2 linked regions of the Homo sapiens genome follow. The protein of the gene in region 2 purifies or fractionates together with the protein of the main gene of each other region. This does not show direct contact. Each region holds a gene or a part of one and is shown on either strand. Other genes may lie near its edges.

Evidence for each region.
Region 1: the proteins of RBM33 (region 2) and MYO9B purify together in Homo sapiens (affinity purification with mass spectrometry; 2 studies listed by BioGRID and IntAct, with this or other methods). This does not show direct contact.

What each region holds. Positions count from the first base shown.
Region 1 is NC_000019.10:17,195,523-17,206,549, reverse strand, and holds part of MYO9B (unconventional myosin-IXb), read right to left. Parts: intron 8,759-11,027; coding exon 8,692-8,758; intron 8,367-8,691; coding exon 8,242-8,366; intron 6,258-8,241; coding exon 6,124-6,257; intron 5,912-6,123; coding exon 5,721-5,911; intron 4,625-5,720; coding exon 4,526-4,624; intron 4,421-4,525; coding exon 4,247-4,420; intron 3,709-4,246; coding exon 3,667-3,708; intron 3,404-3,666; coding exon 3,292-3,403; intron 1,288-3,291; coding exon 1,214-1,287; intron 591-1,213; coding exon 398-590; intron 303-397; coding exon 174-302; intron 1-173. UniProt on the Homo sapiens protein: Myosins are actin-based motor molecules with ATPase activity. Unconventional myosins serve in intracellular movements. Binds actin with high affinity both in the absence and presence of ATP and its mechanochemical activity is inhibited by calcium ions.
Region 2 is NC_000007.14:155,637,456-155,649,070, reverse strand, and holds the start of RBM33 (RNA-binding protein 33), read right to left. Parts: upstream 4,411-11,615; 5' UTR 4,195-4,410; coding exon 4,152-4,194; intron 1-4,151. UniProt on the Homo sapiens protein: RNA reader protein, which recognizes and binds specific RNAs, thereby regulating RNA metabolic processes, such as mRNA export, mRNA stability and/or translation.

The sequences.
Region 1 (11,027 bases), on a different chromosome or scaffold from region 2:
AGAGGTGTCCTGGCCCCACCCCAAACTGGGGACCCGGTTTGGCTGGGCCGACTGCTTTGGGCCTCAGTTTCTCAGTTTGTGAACTGGGTGGTCCTGCCTCCTGGGCTGGTCACAGCGAACGCTGTATCCTGGCTGTGGCCACCTGCTGCCACCCGCACCGCCATGGGGCTCACCGACGGCTCGGAGGAAGTCGCCGTACTGTGCGAAGGTCATGAGGGGCTCGGGCAGCTCCCGCAGCCACTGCTTCAGCACCCCTGTGATGGCGTGGATGGGGAAGTTCTCCAGCTTGACTGCTGCGGGGTCTGTGGGGTGGGTGGGGTGGGTCTGGTGAGCGGCGCACTGGCAGGACGGCTGTGCCTGGGGCCTGGCACTGCACCCACCTGCCCACAGCGCCCACCTGTCTGCAGCGCCTGCCGGAGCTCCCGAGTGCGGTTGGCAGCACCCGACTTGCGGTAGAGGCCCTCGGTGTACAGGCCGTGCATCTCCACGTGTTCCAGGAGCTTCTCCAGCACGATGGGCACCGAGGCCTTGTCGCTGGTCAGGCTGTCTACGCACACGCCGAAGTGGCCAGGCTCAACGCCTGGCTCGCCCTGCAGTGCCGGGGTTGGGGGTCAGGTCTGGGCCTGGCTGTCTTCCTCTCCAGCTGTCTCTGGGGGCCTCTGCCTCCTGGTCCCGCACAAGGCCCTCAGGGCTTCCTCTGCTGTTCTGTCCCTCCCTGTCTCCTTCTGCGTGGTTGTTGGGGGTGTGGGGCTGCAGAAGTCAAGGCCAGCATGGCAGCCACTGGGCAGGGGCTTCCTTTGTAGGCCACCCAAGGCATGGGTGGTCCTTCGTGGGGAGAGAGCTATAACCTAGCCCCCACAGCCACCTCACAGAAGTAGACCCTGACTCTTGCTGCACCCCCAGCACCCAGGACCCCAACCTTATGCACAGAGTTGGGGGGCCTCCCTCTGCATGGCTCAGGACTCTCTCAGGAGCAAGGATGAGCAGGGCTGGGGGAGCTGAGACACACACACAGGCCTGGGCCCTGCCTGAGGGCCTCAAGGAGTTTGTACAGAACCGGGGACAATGGTGTGTTCTGCAGAACCAGAGGCCACAGCCGCCCCCTACTGGCTGCTCAATGCTTCGCTTGGCCCTCACATCAAGCACCACCTCCTGGTGCACCTGGCCGTGAGTGGAGTGTCATTGTAGAAAGTTCCAGGCCTCGTACACTCACCTTCCTCCCGTAGGTGTAGGAGCAGTGGCTCTGAATCTTGTGCACGCACTTCTTGTGGCAGGTCATCTTGCACACTAGGAGGTCCACAGGGTGGGAGTCACAGAGGGTGCTGGGGACCCCAGATTCCTGCAGCCACCCACCCAGCTGGCCGGGGGCCGCCAATTGCCTTCTTTTTTTTTTTTTTTTGAGATGGAGTCTCACTCTTGTTCTCAGGCTAGAGCGCAATGGCGTGATCTCGGCTCACTGCAACCTCCGCCTCCCGGGTTCAAGTGATTCTCCTGCCTCGGCCTCCCGAGTAGCTGGGATTACAGGTGTGCGCCACCACGCCTGGCTAATTTTGTATTTTTAGTAGCGACAGGGTTTCTCCATGCTGGTCAGGCTGGTCTCGAACTACCGACCTCAGGTGATCTGCCCACCTCGGCCTCCCAAAGTGTTGGGATTAGAGGCGTAAGCCACTGCACCTGGCCTGGATTGCCTTCTTTTTGGTTTCTCTTTTTCTTTTTGAGACAGGGTCTCACTCTGTCACCCAGGCTAGAGTGCAGTGGCACTATCATAGCTCACTGGAGCCTTGACCTCCCAGGCCCAGGTGATCCTCCCAAGTAGCTGGCACTACAGGCGTGCACCACCGTGCCTGGCTAATTTCTGTATTTTTTTTTGTATAGATGGGGTCTTGCCATGTTGCCCAGGTTGATTTAGAACTCCTGAGTTCAAGCGACCCTCCCGCCCCAGCCTCCCAAAGTGCTGGGATTACAGGTGTGAGCCACTGTGCCTGGCCTGCCAACTTCTAAACCCACACTGCAGGAACCTGTGCCCTGACTCCTGAGAGAGGAGGCTGTGTGGACAAACTTCATAGCTCCAAGGTGGCCATTCATGGCCTCAGACCCAGCCTGGCTAGCGGAACCATGAGCAGGTGTTTGTGGGGACCTGTGACATCCTTGCCCCAAGTCCCCAAGGCCACCTACTGGCAGAACTAAAGGTCTAAAGGTCCTGCCAGGAGGTGGCCTTGGGGACTTGGGACGAAGATGTCACGGGGCAAAGACAATGCTGCTTTTCCTTCTTCCAACCACACTGAATCCCAGGCCACCCAGCTGACGCCTTGCAGAGGGTACACTGGTTACGCTAAAGAAGAGAGTGTCTGGCACCTGGCAAGGATGGAATCAGGTGAGGGGACGGGCCTGGGTCCCGCATCCTTATCTCAGGACCATGACAACTGACTGTTGGACAGATGTGGGGTGGTGGGGCTGCCTTCTGGGCTGAAAAGACCCTGGCCCAAATGGTTCTGGCAGAAAAACACATGTAGGAGAGGCCCTCTTGACCCTGCTGGGCCTCTGGAGGCTGCCTGGGCTTGGGTACTGACTTGGCCATATCAAAGCTGTGTGAGCATGGATCAGCTGGGTCATTCCTGGGCCCTGTCTCTTAGGGTCCCCTGGGGCTGAGTCTGGCCTACAGGGGAGGGACCGTGAGGAGCCTGGGGAAGGAGGGGCCGATGGTTCAGGCGGTGGAGCAGCGTGTACAGAGACAGAGAGGCAGGGCCCACGAGGAGAGGAGGCTGCAGATGTGGGTGGGTGCTGGCTACTGGGGGCCTTGGGGCCAGCTGAGAATTGGGCTCTGCTCCTCCGGTGATGGTGGACGGTTTGAGGGGGTGGGATATGGCTGGGACAACGGTCCAGAAAGATCTGACCTGGTGGCTGGGCTGGGGTGAAGACCTTTTTTTTTTTTTTTTTGAGACAGAGTCTTGCTCTGTTGCCCAGGTTAGGGTGCAGTGGCGCGATCTCGACTCACTGCAACCTTCGCCTCCCAGGTTCAAGTGATTCTCCTGCCTCAGCCTCCCGAGTAGCTGGGATTACAGGTGCCCACTACTGTGCCCAGATAATTTTTGTATTTTTAGTAGTGATGAGGTTTCACCATCTTGGCCAGGCTGGTCTCAAACTCCTGACCTCGTTATCCACCTGCCTCGGCCTCCCAAAGTGCTGGGATTACAGGTGTGAGCCACCCCGCCTGGCCCTGAAGACCTCTTGAGCAGTGAGGGGTGGTGGGGGACATGGAGGGTTTTGGGGCCTGGTGGGGGAGCCACTCACCGCTGCAGAGCAGGGCCTTGTCCATGAGCCAGATATAGGAGAGGCACTGCTCGCACGACTGCGGGATGCTAACCTGGTAGCTGGCGAACACGTGCCCGTTGTGCTCCTGGACCTGTGAGGCCAGAGGAAGGCGCTGGGCAGGGAAAGGGGAAGGCAGCCCTCCCCAGCCACTGGTGGATGACGACCCATGGGATCTCAGGGGTGACTTATTCAAGACTACGGCTCCGTATATGCCGGGGGAAAAACACACTCACACGTGTCCACGCACACATACGCGTGCAGACGGGCCCATGCGCACATTGACACTGACACACACGTGCATGCTCCTGCCAATGTTCGCCTGCTCGGACTCTCATCTATGTGCAGCCTACTCACAGCACGCTCCTGCTTCCGCTTCTTCTTCTGAGCTTTGCTCTGCTGTGAGGAACACAAGGAGGAGGTTGGCGGGGGCCCCCCTGGGAAGAGCCCCAACCCACCCCTGGCACCCCATAACTCAGGCGTGTGGGTACCCTGAACCCTCCCTCACCTGGAGTGGCATCATTGTCCCTAACGCCCCCATTCAGACACCCCAGACCCAGAAGTGAGGCTCTGTTGGGGAGGGTGCAGGGCTCCCCACCAGGAGGTAGGTGTGGCACAAATGGGCACGGCATGGTATAGGTGGGCATGGCATGTAATCATGGCAAGGGATGGGTAGGCATAGCATGTTGCATGTCATAGGCGTGGCATGGCATGGGTGGGTGTGGCATGTCAGGTGGGTGTGGCATAAGTGATCATGGTGAGGCACAGGTAAGCATGGCATAAGTGGATCAAGTCATGGCACAGTGGCTGTGGTATGGGCAGGGCATGGGTGGGTGTGGCATAAGCATGGTGAGGCATGGGTGGGCGTGGCTAAGGATGGCGAGGCATGGGTAGGCGTGGCATGTCACAGGTGGGCGTGGCATGCTGGGCTGCCCACCTTCACTGGCTCGAAGTCGTTCTTGGTGTAGCCACGGGTGAACTCATCTAGCAGTGACTGGAAGAGGTTGAGGACCAGGTTGGTGTCCTTCTGGCCACGCTCAGTGGCCAGGTTGCTGACGACGATCTGGTAGTTCTCCATCAGATCCTTGTAGCCCACGTGGATCTTCCCGTTCTGTAGGAATGCTAGGCGTCACCCTGCAGGCCTGGGCAAGGGGCGGATGGGAATGACGGGTCTGAGCAGGGTATGGGAAAGGCTGAAGGCCGGGCCGCCACATACCGGGACAGAGTACATCGTTTTGATGTTGCTCCTGAACTTCTCGGTGGCTTCGATAAACAAGCTCTCAATGGGCGTCTTCTGGGAACGGAGGTCATTTATCTGGAAGGGGAGAGGAACTGACCCTGCGTGCCTCAGGCCTGGGGACCTGCGTACCCGAGGAGGTGCCCAAGGGGTCACTTCTATCCTCTCTTAAGTCATCCCCTAGGCTCTCGGGATAAAATCCAGTCCCTCTGGCCAAGCCTGGTCTCTCATCTTGTCAACCCAGAGTTAAAGCCACTGACATTGAGGGCAGGACTACTCTCCACATTGGGGCCTGCCCTGTGTACCACAGCAGGTTAAGCAGCATCCCTGGCCTCCACCCACCAGATGCCAACAGCGCCCTCCCCTGAGGCTGTGATAACCCCAATGTCCCCAGACATTGCCAGTGTTCCCTGGCGGACAGAATCCCCCCTAGATGAGAGCTACAGGTCAGTTCAGGCCCTTCCTGCTGCCCCACACAGGGGCTCAACACCCAGCCATACCTTAGGATGGGGATGCCTGGAATGGCCTGGTAATTTCAAGATGCCTCTACTCCTAGCAGGGTTTCCTGATCCTTCTGTGTCCCCATCGGCCCCCTGTGCCCGCTGTGCAGCTCCCAAATGTAGCTCTATCTGCTGCAGGATTGCCCACCCCCCACCCCCACGGGGTATAACCCTCCTGAGGGCAGCCACAGCTTGTTCGCCTCCACTTCTGTTGCACACAGTGCTTCATCAATCTTTGCTTTGAGACCAAATATGCATTATTATTTTTTTTGAGCCAGGGTCTTGCTCTGTCACCCAGGCTGGAGTGCAGTGCTGCGATCGTGGCTTGTGGTGCCTCGACCTCTTGGGCTCAAGCGATCTTCCTGCCTCAGCCCCCAGGAGCTGGGACTACAGGTGTGCACCACCACTCCAGCTAATATTTAAACCTTTTGTAGAGATGGGGTCTCTCTGTTGCCCAGGCTGGTTTTGAACTGCTGGGCCCAAGTGATTCTCCTGTCTCAGCCTCCCAGAGTGCTGGGATGACAAACATGAACCACTGTCCCCGGCCTGAGCCTGGACTTTGTATTCTTGACCTGCTAAACCCTGTGTTGTGTGTTTCAGAAAACAATGCCTGGCTGTGATGGTTCCCCTGGGGACCGGGCCTCATGCCCCTGGCCCTCGCCTAGTGATCCCACCTTGTTGAGCAGGAACTCGTCCAGGTACTTGAGCTCATTGGCGTTGGTGATCTGGCGGAACACCGATTCCCGCCACTTCTCTGACACTGTGATCTTCCCAATCTTGACATTTCGGTTCTTCTTCCCTTTGCCTCCTGGTTCCTTGGTGCGCTTCTCACCTGCAGCGTGGCGATGCTGCTGTCCGGAGGGGGCTGAGGGGGGACAGGAAGCAGCCGGTGAGGGTGGGTTCAGGGGGAGGATGCAGGGGACCTCCTATGGCACGCCTTTATCCAGGGCCAGAAACCCCTGGCTCTGTGCCTAGGGCTTGGCCCACAGCCAACTCAAGGCCCCGTTTGGGGACAGTGAATGTCCCCAGGGGCACTGGTGGCTCTACTGTCTGTCCCTGAGGCTGCAGGCTACCAACCTTCCAGGCCCTTCTTCATGGTGGTGGCTTCCAGCACCACGTGCCCGGACACTGCATTCTCCAGCTCCTCTGCGCCCTCCAGGCTGTATTTTTTATCCTTGGTTTTATGCAGAAAAAGCCTCTTAAACGTGGATCTGCAGGAGAAAGTACGTGGCTTCTTTTAAGTCTGAAATGAAAATGGACGTGAGGCCCAGCCTCCCTGTGACTGGACACATGGCAAATGCTCTATCAATGCCTGACTCAAAAAAGGATCTGGCCTGGCATGGTGGCTTATGCCTGTAATCCCAGCACTTTGGGAGATCCAGGCGGGTGGATCATCTGAGGTCAGGAGTTTGAGACCAGCCTGGCCAACATGGCAAAACCCTGTCTCTATTACAAATACAAAAAAATAGCAGGGCGTGATGGTGGGTTCCTGTAGTCCCAGCTACTTGGGAGGTTGAGGCAGGAGAATTGCTTGAACCCAGGAGGTGGAGGTTGCAGGTTGCAGTGAGCTGAGATCGCACCATTGCACTCCAGCCTGGGTGACAGAGTGAGACTCTGTCTCAAAAAAAAAAACAAAAAACAAAAACAAAAATGGATCTGGCTGGGTATGGTGGCTCACGCCTATGTAATCTCAGCACTTTGGCAGGCTGAGGTGGGTGGATCAGCTGAGCCCAGGAGTTTGAGACCAGGCTGGGCAACATAGCGAAACCCCTTCTGTACCAAAAATACAAAAAAAAAAAAAAAGAAAAAAAAAGAAAAAAAAATTAGCTGGGCATGGTGGTGCACACCTGTACTCCCAGCTACTTGGGAGGCTGAGGCAGGAGAATCGCTTGAGCCTGAGAGGTGGAGGCTGCAGTGAGCGGAGATTGAGCCATTGCACTCCAGACTGCCAGACTGGGCAACAGAGCAAGATTCTGTCTCAAAAAAAAAACAAACAAAAAAACAACACAGGATTATCTTATAAAGAGCAATAGCCCTTTCTTTGTACTGGCAGGGGAGTTATGTGAAGAAAGAAGGATACCAAACAGAAGCCACAGGGGGACTCCATTTTCTTTTCTTTTTGTTCCAGTTGGGGTGTGACTCAGTCTGGAGTGCAGTGGTGTGATCATAGCTCGCTACAGCCTCAAACTCCTGGCCTCACGAGCATGATCCTCTCACCTCAGCCTCCTGAGTTGTTGGGATTATAGGTACAAGCCATGCGCCTAGCTCATTATCTTTTTAAGTTAAAAAAAAAGTTTTTTTGAGACAGAGTGTCATTCTCTTGCCCAGGCTGGAGTGCAGTGGTATGATCACAGTTCACTGCAGGCTTGATCTCTTGGCCTCAAGGGATCCTCCTGTTTCAGCCTCCTGAGTAGCTGGGACTACAGGCATGCACCGCCCTGCCTGGCTAATTTTTGAAATTTTTTTGCAGAGACAAGATTTTGCCACGCTGCCCAGGCTGATCTTGAACTCCTGGCTTCAAGTGATCATCCCACCTTGGCCTCCCAAAGTGTTGAGATTACAGGCGTGACCTACTGCATCCATTCAGCCACGTGTCCTTTTAAGGGACAGAAGACAGAAGACACAGACACTGAGGGGAAGGCCAAGTGCCGATAGAGACAGAGATTAGAGTGATGGAGCCACAAGCCAAGGAACACCTGGAGCCCCCAAAAGCCAGAAGAGGCAGGAAGGATCCTGCCCTAGAGGCTTTTTTTTTTTTTTTTTTTTTTTGAGACGGAGTCTCCCTCTGTCACCCAGGCTGGAGTGCAGTGGCATGATCTCAGCTCACTGCAACCTCCACCTCCCGAGTTCAAGCGATTCTCCTGCCTCAGCCTCCCGAGTGGCTGGGATTATAGGTGCCTGCCATCATGCCCAACTAATTTTTGTATTTTTAGTAGAGATGGGGTTTCACCATGTTGGCCTGGTTGGTCTCCAACTCCTGACCTCAAGTGATCCACCCGTCTCGGCATCCCAAAGTGCTGGGATTATAGGCGTGAGCCACTGCCTGGCCTCCCCATTCAGTTTCTACTGAGCAAATGCCTTTGCGAACGTGCTTTGTAAACGTGATTGGTTTAGGAGGCCACACTGCTGCGAGGCCCTGGCAGGGACCCCGGGCATCCTCTGGTGGCCTGAGTTTCCCCCAAGCCCAATACTTACTTAGAGTCGACCTGAGAGCCCGGGGACAGCCCTGCGTCTGGGAGGGAGGATGCGTCGCCTGGCTTCTTCTTCTGGACAGCTGGCTTTTTCGCACTTCGCTCTCCGTCCGTGGTTTCTGCTGCAGGCTGCAAGACGGTGCAGTGGGGGGCTGCTAAGGAAAGGCTGGCAGTCCTGTGCTAGATGGGGAAGCCCCTGCAGGCATTTACACTCCATCCACCGACCTCACTTCCTGCTTTTTTTTTTTTTGAAACGGAGTCTCACTCTAGTTGCCCAGGCTGGAGTGCAGTGGCCTGGTCTCGCGAGGCTCACTACAACCTCTACCCTGCCACTGCGTTCAAGCGATTCTCTCGCCTCAGCCTCCTGAGTAGCTGGGGTTACAGGCAAGCGCCACCACGCCTGGCTGATTTTTGTATTTTTAGTGGAGACGGGGTTTTGCCGTGTTGTTGTTACCTGAGCCTTGGCCAGGGACGGGAGGAGCTTGGAGACGTCGCTCGTGGAGAAGGAGGTGCGCCTCTCCCTGCGAGATCACAGAAACATGGCTTTTACTGACTAGAGTGAGTCAGTGGCATTTTCTTGTCTTAGTGGTTCTTGGGTTCTCACTTGGGCAGTTCTGCCCCTGCCAGGGGACACTTGGCAATGTCTAGAGACAGTTTTGGTTGTCACCACTTGGGTGGGGGGAAAGGAGTGGGTGGGTACTTCTGGCCTCTGGTGAGTGGAGGGCAGGGATGCTACTCAATACCCTACAGAGAATGGTCTCCACCCCAGAGAGTGAGCCAGCCCCAGATGTTGAGTGTGGAGGGTAGGAAACCTTGCCTTAGCCCAAGAGACCCTGCCTGCCTGCCCATCTATCTATCTATGTATCTATCTATCTATCTATCTATCTATCTATCTATCTATCTATCATCTATCTATCCATCCATCCATCCTTCTACTCATTGACTCATTGTCTCTATCTTCCACCCATCCATCCTCTTTATCTGCCTTCCATCCATCTCTTCATCTGTCATCTCTATCTATCTTTTTTTTTTTTTTAGACGGAGTTTTGCTCTTGTTGCCCAGGCTGGAGTGCAATGGTGTGATCTCGGCTCACTGCAACCTCTGCCTCCCAGGTTCAAGTGATTCTCCTGCCTCAGCCTCCCGAGTAGCTGGGATTAGAGGCATGCGCCAACACATCCAGCTAATTTTTGGTATTTTTAGTAGAGACGGGGTTTCGCCACGTTGGCCAGGATGGTCTCAAACTCCTGACCTCAGGTGATCCACCCGCCTCAGCCTCTCAAAGTGTTGGGATTATAGGTGTGAGCCCCCGAACCCGGCTCTACCTATCTTCTACCCATCCGTCCCTCCATCATCTCTATCTTCCTCCCATCCATAATCTACCTATCATCTATCCATCCCTCCATCCATCAACTCTATGTTCCTTCCATCTCTCCATCTCTATCTTCCAGCCATCCACCCATCCTTCTGTCTGTCCATCCATCCATCCATCCACCCACCCAGCCATCCATCATCTCTACCTATCTTCCATCCCTCCATTCATTGTCTCTACCTACCTATCTTCCTTCCATCCATCTATCGTCGGCATCTATCTTCCTTCTATCCATAATCTCTACTTTTTTTTTTTTTTTGAGACGGAGTCTCATCTCTGTCATCCAGGCTGGAGTGCAGTGACTTGATCTCGGCTCACTGCAACCTCTGCCTCCCAGGTTCAAGCGATTCTCCTGTCTCAGCCTCCCAAGTAGCTGGGATTACAAGCATGCGCCACCACGCCCAGCTAATTTTTGTATTTTTAGTAGAGACAGGGTTTCACTATGTTGGCCAGGCTGGTCTCGAACTCCTCTCAAACTCTTGGCCTCCCAAAATGCTGGGATTACAGGCATGAGCCATCGCGCCCAGCCTAATTTCTACCCATCTTCTATCCATCCATCTCCCCATCATCTGTATCATCCATCCATCCATGCCTCTATCCATCATTACTACCTGTCTTCTATCTATCCATCCCTTCATCCATCATGTGTATCTTCCATCCATCCATCATCTATATCTGTCTTCCATTCATCACCTCTATCATTTTCCATCCATCCATCCCTCCATCATCTCTATCTTCCTTCCATCCATCCTTCCATCATCTCTATCTTCCATCCATCCACCCACCCACCCACCCACCCACACATCCTTCCCTCTCTCTCTCTCTCCCTCCCTCCCTCCATCCATCATCTATCGATAATACTCCTGGCATGTGGTAAGTGGAGGCCAGGGATGCTGCTCAACATCTTATGATACACAGGACAGCCCCCACCGCAGAGAATGATCTGGCCCCCAATACGAGCAGTGGGAGGCTGAGCAGGCCTGCTGCAGGGAAGGCCTGTCTCCTCCCTGATTTCTTTCCTTTGGTCCTGCAGGCCCTCTGGAAGAGGGAGCTGGAGATTCCAAGTCACTGACACTTGGCTTACTAAGGCTCAGGCAGAGCAAGCCCCTGCTCCTTTAACCCCGAGGAGTGCAGTTAGTCCTGTTCACCAATTAGAAACCAAGGCCCAAGATTTCTGGGCAGCAGGGACCTTGACCTGAGGAGCCACCTCTCTCAAGGCCGGGGCCTTTCTGTGTGAGCACAGCTCCTTCTGGGGACCCCTCAAGGCTCCAGGTCCCAGCCTGGGCCCTGGCTGGCTGCCTTGTCTTCACTTGGTCTTTAGCATGTCCTGCTCGTCCTCCTCCCTCAGGCCTCCCGCACACCCACTGGGCATGATTACACATGTGTTTCCAGGATGTGTGGCACTGCCCCTGGCCTTGCC
Region 2 (11,615 bases):
AAAATAAAAAGCTTCCAAATTTGGTGAAAGACATGAACCTACATATTCAAGAAGCTCACCACTCCAAGCAGGATAAATCTGGAGACCCACACAGAAACACATTATGATCACACTATCAAAAGCCAAAGACAAAGAGAATCTTGAATACACCAAGAGAGAAGTGACATGTCATGTACAAAGGATCCTCCATAAGATTAACAGTCAATTTCTCATCAGAAACGATGGAAGCCAGAAGGTGATAGGATGAAATATTTCAAACTGCCATTCAAAAATTATATCCCCAGGTATGACCTAAGGGACTTTGTCATTAGTACACCTGCCCTACAAGAAATGCTAAAAGTACTCATGGCTGAAATGAGAAAGGCTATTCTTTCCCGACTCCTCAAACTCTCTTGATTGAAGCTAAGAAATTAAGCATGAAAGATTTTCTTGAAGGAAAAAAAAAAAGAATTAAATACACACATAATTATCAGTATGAAAACATCTCATTTATCAGCACTATTAGTGATTAAAATGCTCCAAAAATTTCCTACCAGGTAAATTTTACCTGTTGAAGTACTAAAACTTGTTTCACTTTCACAATTTCGAATGAAAACCTTCTGCACCATGCTTCATACTTTCCTGCCTTACTACATACTGACACAGTGGAAGGAACACTGAACTAGAAGTCAAAAAACCTGAATTCGAGTCTACTTCCCTTTCTTAACAGCTAGGTGGCTGAACTTTTCTCGGCTAGTTTACTATCAAATGTAAATTAAAGCAACTGGTTTAGTATCTAAAGTCTTAACTCATCCCAGCAGTGTATCTTGCTCTAAAATTTTACCAGCCTAGGATTTGTTTGAAATATACAAAAGTGGAGGTGGGGGGATGAAAACAGATTGCCAGAATGTTGATGCTAGGTGATGGGTATGTGGGTTCATTATTCTACTACTGGATGTGTTTGAAATTTCCCATTAAAACTTTTTATTTCTAAGAATTGACTAGAAAACAAAAAATTTACAAGCACCCATTTTTTCACCTCACCTATAAAATCAGATTAGCTCAGGCCCAAGAATGCTGTTGTAAATCTTAAGTGAGATAACGCACTCACTAGGTTGGAGGCTTTTTACGATTTGTGTACTGATTTTTTATTTTATATTTTACAAGGAAGCACTGGAACTAGAAGATCTTGAAACTCATTAAACTATTTGTTCCTTCCCCAAAATGCCATGTTTTTGCCTTTATGTTTTTGTTTTCAGTCTCCAATAAATAACAGTTGTCATTCTCTCTGCTATTAGTAAGGATAGCAATTCCATTTCTCTATCCTTACTACTTGGCTGCAATACCAAATGACTCCTTTGAAATGTATCATGCCAAGGCATGGTGGCTCACGTAATCCTTGCACTCTGAGAGGCTGAGGCGGGCAGATCACTTGAGCCCGAGTTCCTGCCTGGGCACCTTGGCAAAACCCTGTCTCCACAAAAAATACAAAAATTAGCCAGGCGTGCTGGTGCACACCTGCAGTCCCAGATACTCAGGAGGCTGAAGTGGGAGAATCAACTGAGCCCAGGAGTCCAAGGCTGCAATTAGCCATGATTATACGACTGCACTCCAGTCTGGGCAACACAGCAAGACCCTGTCTCAAAAAAAAAAGTAAAAAATAAGCAAACACTCCTATAGACACTTTGTGGTACCCATTTTGGCTATCCAGATTGTGGATAGCCAAGACCTATTTTATTCAATAAATACTAACCACTTACTATACAAGAGACCAGTGATTTTCAAACTGACAATCTCGAACATTTTGTAGGTTGTGAAATTAATCCAGGTCACAACCAGCATTTTACTGTAATGAAATAGAAAACATTAGAGTGCATGGCATAGTATGGACCAGTATTGTTCATGAAATTTTTTTTAACTTTTATGTATGTACTAAATCACAATGTCAATCACATTTCTGTGGCTGCCATTTTAAGAAGTTTGAAAGTCACTGTGCTAGACAATATGCTAAACTGAGCTGCCAAATAAGCTATCGATAGCTCAATAAGGTATTACCAATGTAAATATTTCTCCAAGCTAACATGATTTAATCAGTTACACAGGTAAATCACGTGGAAATGACTAACATAACTTAGCATACAATTATATTATTTCCTATTCGTAAAGAAAACATTTCATCCTTTAATTCATTCACCAAATGTTTGTTGAACACATGCTATGTGCCAGGAACACGTGGAACGCATGGTAAAACAGGTAGCATTTTTGTCCTCATGAGGTTTACAGGCTACTGTGGGAGGCAGATTTAAAAAACAAGTAAAAACTGAAGAAAATTACAAATTAAGATAAACGTTCTGAAGAAAACAAACAAAGGTGCTAGAGAATGAAGACAAGAGAGGCACAAGAGCAACGGACATACATTCCTCAGATACAATGAATTCTCAAGGAAAGCCTCCCTTAAAAGCGTGAGATCCACTGGATCAGGAGTCAGCCCTGGCAAGAGCGGGTACAGGAGCAGTCCATGCGATGAACTTCCAGGATAAAGGAAGCAATCACACAACATGCTGGTGGGGTAGGCAGGGACCAAGTCATACAGAACTCACAAATCTTGGCAAGGAGTTTGGTATGAAGAGCAAAGGAAACTTTGGCACTTGTGACAAAATGGAAGGAAAAACTCCAAAGCATCATGAATAAAGCCTACTTATTCTTCTAAAATAGCAATTCTCAAAACTTCTGACCTCAAAATTATTGAAGACCCAAAAATGCCTGTTTATCTGGATTACATTCAGTGATATTACTATTTTAGAAATTTAAAATGAGAAACGTAAAAGAATACACAAGCATATATTCCATTAGCCATCAGCATAACGTCTTCACATGTTATTCAGCCTCTAGAAAACTCCACTGTACACTACTGAAAGAAAAGAGAAAAAATACAAATAACACCTTAGTCTTTCTAATGAAAAGAGTGTTCACCCAAGAGTTCCCAGGTTACACTGGGAATGCTATAAAACAAGTAATTCTGACCCCCAGAAAGATAGGTGAACTATACATTTTAAAATTTTAATTAGTCTCAGATGTAACACGCAAACATCATGTATTTAAACTGAAAGAAAAGTGGCATATAGCAAACCAAATTGCCAGAAGCGACATTCCTACACTTAGTCTTTTTTGTTTTTCCATTTTGTCAGGCAAACGTTTTGACAGTTGGGCCAAAATTCCTAAACAGGATGATAACAACGTAACCATCTGCTAGCATTTACTAAAAAATACTTCTCGAGTATACACTAGACTGGCTTTTCAACGTTTCAATGGTAAGAACTAATCCCAAATGCTTTTGTTATCCATATTTTACCATCTTTTCAAAGTTTTCAAAATAATCACTTAAAAAGTCACTTTCAAGTATCTCTCCACGTTTTTAAAACCCCCAGTGATATGTAATTTTACCTGAAAGTAATTTACCTACAATTTTTTAGAGATAGGTGTTTCATCAATACTGTTTATGCTTGCAAACAAGAAAAACTATCCAAAGGAACTGACTCAGTATCTAAACCTTTTGTGTCACGTTTTCACTTTTGGAAGACGCACATAAAACACTAACAGGTTATTAGACAACAAATAAGTTAATTTAAAACAGGGATTTATTGAGACTTTCTCAAGAAATCTCACTTTCCAAACTGGCCTACTGTCGCACATTCCTTCACACAGGTGAATCTTTTCGTTATGTTTTTGTAATGGGCTTCAAATCAATCTAAATCTGTCAGGATGGCCCCACAATCTTAAACACCCACCCTACAGCGACCTGCCCCGCTCTCCCTAAGTGACACTGTCTCGGGGGGTGGGGGGGGCGCTCTCCTACCCATAGGACACCAGGCCGGCTTCGGCACTTAATGCCCGCCAACGCCAGAGATGGGCCTGACACTTAGGCAGCCTTGCAAAGTAGAGGACACACAGAAGTTCACAGGTAAGTACGATCTGCACAGCGGAGAGGAGGAGCGAGAAAGGGAGAATGACAATAGCGAGGGAAGGCGAGGGAGAAAACGGAATAGGCCGAACACAAAGAGAGTCGGAGCCGGGGAGAGCCTCGTCCTCTCCTAAGCGGGGAGGCCCCCCGGCCTACACCCCCGCCCACCGCGGCGCGGTCCTGGCCCCCAGAGTCCGGCTGCCTCACGTACCTCCGGCGCCTGCTCCTCCGCTCGCTCCCAGGGCGGCCGCCATGGCACTCGCGGGGCCCGGCCTTCAGCCTCCCCCACCAAGCCAGCTGGTGGGCCGACGTGCCTGGTCCGGGCCCGGGTACGGGTGACGGAGGACAGAGAAGGGAGGGGGCTGCAGGAGGCAGAGGCGAAGCCGGGCGCTTCGCGGTCCACAGCTGGCCCTTCGCCTCCGCAGGAAGAAAACAACAAACTACCGCAACATGGCCGCGCGCCCGCGCCCGCCGCGGTGCACCCTGGGATGATGGAGGCCGGGAGGCGGGCGGGCGCCGGGGCCTGCCCCCGCCGAGGCCGCAGCAGCCCTGAGGCCGCCGCCGTGTTTCGGGCGGTGGGCGTGCAACGCAAACACGCGGCAGTCACCTCCGCCCGGCTCCTGAAACCCAAATGTTTGAAGCAGGGCGGGGACGACTGCTGGCCATAGGTCGATTCCGGGTTCAGTCGTAAGGCGCTTTGCAGCAGTCGGCAAAGCGAAGCTTTACGGCAGCCCGTCTCCCGTTAGGAGCCGGGGAGGCAAGGTCCAGCGTACGGTCCGGGGGAACCTTAACTGTCGTTTCTGTGCCTGGACAGTAGGTTGGAGAGTGGGGTCTGAATGAGCTACAGTAGTGAACGCCGACGGCTTGTGTTGAGGGCAGGAAAGGGTGCACACAGCTCCGGCAGGTGCTTCCGCGAGGTGAGATGAGTGCCGCGCGCGCCGGGCTAACGTGCACGCGCACTCGTGCGGCGCCCGCGAGCCCTCACTTCCTACAACCCGAGACCCTCCGGACCCGCGACCCCGGACCCCCGTCCCCTTCTCCGCGCCCGGCTGGGCAGCGGGCAGCGCCGGACCCTGATGGGCTCTCGGCCCTTACTGCCCCTGCGCCTTGCGGCCCTGAGAACAAGACGTGAGCAGGACGGATAGCGCCCGGCACTCATGTCTGAGTTTGCATTTTGAGCAGTGAGAAAGGTTAAGAAACGAAATCCTCATACTTGACATAAAGGAAAGGGTGCTGGGTGGTCAGACAGCTGTGGACGAAAGGGCTCAGGGGTTTTGGGGTGTGGGGCCCGGGAAGGCGCATCTGAGTGGTCGCAGTCGGGGAAGGGGGTTGATTAAGTACACACCGGCTGTAAACATTGATTCCATATCGGTCAATGTGGGGCTTAGGTGAGGCGTTCTGACCCAGCAATGAAACTGGAAAGGTAGGCAGGGGCCAGGATTCCGGACTTTGGGACGTTTTTCTGAGTCTATGGGGTCTATTGAAAGATTTTAGAAACAATTTACATGGTAAGATTTGTATTTTAGAAAGGTGACTGATACAACAACGTAGAGGACCCTGCAATGTGGAGAGGCATGAAACTGGAGGTCCAGTGCCGTGAGTTAACAATCAAGACGTCCATACAGGAGATGCATTGGTGGATGGGTGAAGAGATGATAAAACGGTACGTATAATAAAATGCTGGCCGGGCGCGGTGGCTCACGCCTGTAATCCCACCACTTTGGGAGGCTGAGGTGGGTGGATCACGAGGTCAGGAGTTTGAGACCAGCCTGACCAACATGGTGAAACCCCGTCTCTACTAAAAATACAAAAATTAGTTGGGCGTGGTGGCACGCGCCTGTAATCCCAGCTACTCAGGAGGCTGAGGCAGGAGAATTGCTTGAATCGAGGAGGCGGAGGTTGCAGTGAGCCGAGATTGCGCCACGGCAATCCAGCCTGGGTGACAGAGCGAGATTCTGTCTCAAAAAAAAACAAAAAAATTATTCAACTGTGAGAACTCACTCCCCAAAAAAAATGTTTTGCAAGCAACTCATTGAAAAATGGTCTCTATTAAAAAGCACGTTAATACATCCATATTTAAATGGCTTGAACTCTTTATCACCTTTCATTATTTTTTGAACTGTGGAGGATGGCATGCCTAACTCAGAAAATATTTTTCAGGATAATTCAGTGGTGATCTTCAGAAGAATTCCACAAAAAACCAAATTAACAGATGAAACAATCTCATAAGCCACTTGAAACTGAATTTCTCTAGAACAAGAGTCTATAAAATTTTTTGATCAAACACCCACTGGAAAAATTTTTTAGCGTGGACACCCAGTATTTGAAGTTCTTGGTAAATTACTGTGAGTAAAGATTTAACCAACCCCTTGTCCTTATCTATGAACAAACTTCACTTTGTGTTAACTTTAACTTGTCATAGAAACCTTATGAAGGCAGAGTGTTCATTGTGGTATAAAACAACATTGGTTGTAGGCCAGGCGCGGTGGCTCACGCCTGTAATCCCAACACTTTGGGAGGCCAAGACAGGTGGATCACCTGAGGTCAGGAGTTCAAGACCAGCCTGGCCCACATGGCAAAACCCCATCCCTACTAAAAATACAAAAATTAGCTGGGTGTGGTGGCACATGCATGTAATCCCAGCTACCTGGGAGGCTGAGGCACAAGAATCACTTGAACTCAGGAGGTGGAGGTTGCAGTGAGCCGAGATCACACCACTACACTCCAGCCTAGGTGACAAGAGTGAAACTCCATCTCCAAATAAATAAATAAAACATTGCTCATGGTAAAAATGACCTCTGACATGTAGACTGCCTCTGGCTTGAAAGTACTGAATAATCTTAAAACACCTAGTGGGAAGCCATACCTTTAGCCTCTGTTACTGTCTTAACTGAATGTGGGAATCTAAAAGACAAACTCAGGGAACTGGTTTCCCGCCGGTCAAGGACTTCCAAGCCAAGCCCCCACCCATAATGGTTTGCTCCTGAATTGCATTTGGGCCAAAGAGTAGAGCTCTTCCATGCCTGTACCGCAGTGAAGTGTGTTTCTTCTCCTCAGTCCTCCAAAGTGGAGCTGCTGCCAGGCGTGGCATTATATGAGTGTCAGGGGTTAAACCTAAGAAGACTACCTAGTGAGCGCTGCAGTTTCATACATATCCTACTGAAAATCTTAAAAGCAAGCTTTGCTTTTTTGTAAATAAAGCGAATATAGAAGTCTTTCTCGTCTCAGTAATGATGAACTGGAAATTCTGTTCCCCTCCTCCAACAAAACAGATTCTGTGGAAAACATTTTTTGTTGTATTGCTAGGTTTTAGGAATAATGTTTCCAAAGGATCAAGAAGGAAGCAAAACGCTGGGCACAGTGGCTCACACCTGTAATCCCAATGCATTGGGAGGCTAAGCAGGTGGTTATCACTTGAGCCAAGGATTTCAAGAGCAGCATGGGCAACATGGCAAAACCCCATTTCTACAAAAAATAAAAATAAAAATAGCCAAGCATGGTGGTGCATACCTTTAACTGCTTTGCATAACTACTCTGGAGGCTGAGGCGGAAGGATCATCTGAGTCCAGGAGTTCGAGGTTATAATGAGCTGTAATAGCACCACTGCACTCCAGTCTGGGTGACCAAACAGAACCCCATCTCTTAAGCAAAACAAACAAACAAAAAAAAAACAGATCCAAAGCCTGAGCAGTTAGTAGTGTACAGGAAGTTCAGGGTTTCACTGGGGAAGTCATCCCCATTTGCACTGCTAATAGGAAGCAAATTCTTGGACAGCTTTTGAGGAGGGAATCTAAACCCCAGGCTCCCAAATTAGGCCAGAGATCCTGGAAGGGCTTTCTCAAATTATCCCCTTATATTCTTCACAGTTTAAGGTCAACCAACTATGGACTTAAAATCAAAGATCACAAAATGCACGAGGGAAGAAACCACTGTAAGTGAAAAATACAAACTAGATTGACCTCCTAGGGACTTTAGTTATTAAAATTACCATAAAGGACAATATTTGAAAGGTTTAAGGAAATAAAGGATGAAAAAAATCAAGAAGAGACTGTCTAGAGTAGCCAGAGAGTGCTTCCTTTTTGTTGTATCTGAACAATGTCCTAAAGCCATTAGGCAGCACTAGTGGTATAGCAGGGCTGGGAGAGGTGGGGAGGGATGTGCTGGCCAGGCTAGAGGATCGGAGCCCAAGCATGTGTTCCAGCTCATACCCTGTGAGAGGGCTGCCCAGCAAGGCATGTGAGAGCACCACAGGTTTCAAAGTATGTCCTGTGGATTGGCAAAGTGAGGAGGGCATCCACCCATGGGGGCAGTTCAACATGGGGAGTCACACATGACCGGGTTACTAGGACATGATCCTGAGGGATGGGCCCAAGGTGGAATTCAGGGCCCTACTGGGATGAGGTGGGAGTTGCCAAAGATAAGTAGACTAGAACGGCAGAACACAAGCATCGTGAGAGTTTTCACACAGGTGGGAGGCAGAGCACAGGGAATCAGAACTCCAGTTATAAGGGGACCTACACAGAAGAAGGTGACAACAGAGATGGCATGTTGGTTATGAACAGGGAAATTGATCAGATATATAAATATATGAAGGGTGATGGAGCTAAGTTTCACACTGTGCAAATAGGGAGTTACTTATATGAAGAAAAAGCTAAAATTAACCCTATGGTGTGTCACTAGAATAAAGAATCAGAGTGATTGCACTAATGGTTTTTGATAATTGTATTTCATTGTAGGAATAAATGTATATGCAAATATGTGTATGCCTGTTTTTGTATAACTGTGTGTGTGTGTATGTGTGTGTGTTTCCTAACTGTCCACCAAGAGTGCCCTGGAGACAGCAGCCCATCTTGAGCACACCCAGCACCTAGACCTTGGTTTCTAAATACCACTTTTCAAAAGGAACCAGTATTACTTGGAAAAACAACTGATTTCAGAACTGGGGCATGGAATTCGCAAGATCAGCCTGGAACATCTTGTTCCCTCCAAAAATCAAGGAAGTGCTTGAATAGTGATAAAGATATGTCAAAATGACACAGAAGTGAGATTTAATGGGCCAAAGCAGAGATGAGATGAGCATCAAATTAAATAATGAGAGCAATAGACTAAAAACAGGAAAGCTTGTGTCTATACAAATATTGATAAATAATAAATTGAACTTTATATGGAAACAGTATATCAAAATAGTTAAGGTGTTCCTTCCTAGAAAATATATATTAATTACATAGTAGAAAAGAATAATTTTCAGTGGAAAAGCCTCTAAAACCACCCTAACTGATCAAAGTAAACATTTTCAATAATGGGATAAATAAAAGTTGCCACCTGATATAATACAATAAGAAGAGTACAGCATCACTTCTGTGATCATCCTGTCAAAGATACCTAACCAAATCTAATTCTGAAGAAAAAAGGACAAACTCAAATTGAGAGACATTCCAGAAAATAATTGGCATGTAATCTTCAAAGATCTAATTACGAAAGTCAAGGAAACACTAAGAAAACATTTCAGACTGAAGAAGAAAAAGACATCACAACTAAATGCAATAAATGATCTTTTCACTCTTATTGGGACAATTTGCAAAAATTGATAGGGTCTGAAGGTTAGATGGCAGTAACACACCAAGTTAATTTCCCGATTTCAGTGATTAATACGCTGCATGTAGGAAGAAAGCCTTTGTGGTAAATACATACTACATACAGTGCTTGTGGCTGATGGGGCATCTGCTCAGCAACTTGGTCACACATGATTCACAAAAAAAGTTTAATTTTACTCTTAAACTTTCTACGGGTTTGTAATGCTTCAAACAAATTAAAGAGGAAAAAAAATCAAACACTGTTCAAAATACAGTTGTTAAAAAACCCAAAGGCAAAATTACACAGATGAGACAGAATTGAGAGAATTTGGGAATTAAGGGTAGACAAAAAAATTGCGCAGAATATAACACAAAGAGGAAAGGAGATGAAGGATGTGAATGAGAGGTTTAGCAATTGAGAGACTGGAATGAGGATGCCAAACACGTGATATAGCTTGAATGTTTGTATTCCTCCACCCCAAATTCATATGTTGAAACCTAATCCCCAAATGTGACAGTATTTGGAGGTGAGGCCTTTGGAGGTGAATAGATGAATGAGATGAGTGTCCTCATAAAGAAACCCCCAAGAGCTGCCTTGCCCCTCCCGCTGTGTGAGGTTAGAGTGAAAAGATGGCCACCTATGAGGAATGGGCCTTCACCAGACACTGAATCTGCTGGCACCTTGATCTTGGACTTCCCCACCTCCAGAACTGTGAGAAAGAAATTCTGTTTATAAGCCACACAGACTGTGTTATTTCATTACAGCAGCCTGAAGGACTAAAACACTGTAAAAGTGAGGTTCCAGAAGGAGAGAATAAAAAGTATAGAGGAGAGGCAATATTCGAAAAGATGATTTCACATGATTTTTAAGAATTAGTGAAAGACGTAAATCCAAAGATACAGGAAGCATAACAAGCATGGGGTAAAAAAAAAAATAAAAAAATCCACATCTAGACGTGGTGAAACTAAAAATTTGAATAACCAAAAAAGAGAAGATATAAAAAGCAGCGAAAGAGAAACTTCCACCTCTGGCCATCATGGAGGACTGAGACAGGCTTCTCACATCACAAACAACTTGAAAACTGGACAGATTTGGAAACACTCTTTTCAGACATTGGAAGACAGGCAGTCGAGGACCATGATCCCTGAGAGAATGGCAGCAAACGAGGTGGGCCTTATGATAACCCAGCTTTCTGGATTGTGAGGCAGGAAGGGGAAACTCAGGCAGAACACAGTGGTCTTAATGATTTGGGGCCACAGGGATGACAATTTGTAGTGCAGGTGTGGGACATTTGTGGGTTGCAGTACTGGAGATGAGGGAGCTAGGCAGAGAAAGAGTTCTGGAAATCTGCATGGAGTCACCTTGAATATGTTGCTGTAGGGTGAAACTCCACGAGGACAGACAAAGTACATCGGGAACAACCAGAAAGCTAGAGTAAAGGTTACTCCAGAATCTCCTAACAGAGTTTTAGAACAATCCTGGAAGGGAGTATGCTGATCAGCAGGTAATTTAATGGCCTGCCAGAACAAAGTCCAATATTTTTTAAGACAACCACATTCGGCACTCAATAAAGTAAAATTCATAAAAGTCCAGCATCCAATCAAAAATCGCTACTGAAGTGAAGGAGCAGGAATATATGACCAATACCAGGAAAAAAATTGATCAATAGAAATAATATGACAGAAATGATGGAATTACCAGGCAAAGAATTTCAAACAGTTACTATACATATGCTCAAGAATTTAAGGAAAAACAAGGCCATAATGAAGAAAGACATAGATAGGAAGTGAATATTTTAGAGCTGAAAAATACAGTATTCAAAATAAAATGTTCAATGGGTAGAAATAAAAGTAGTTAGAAATTTCCAGTTTTATCTCATAGACGTAGAACACTGGATAAAGTATCACTGCCAAGATTACAGCAAAAAGAACTGTAGCTTTCTTGAGCCCATCAGAAAATCAACATTGCAGAACGACCAAATAACTGGAAATCTAGGGAGAGACACCTCGGAAGAAAAACAGGACCTGAGCATTTGCTTACCTGGGAGAGAAACAAATGATGCCATATGTGTGGGAAATAAGAGTCAGCTAAAACGTTTAGA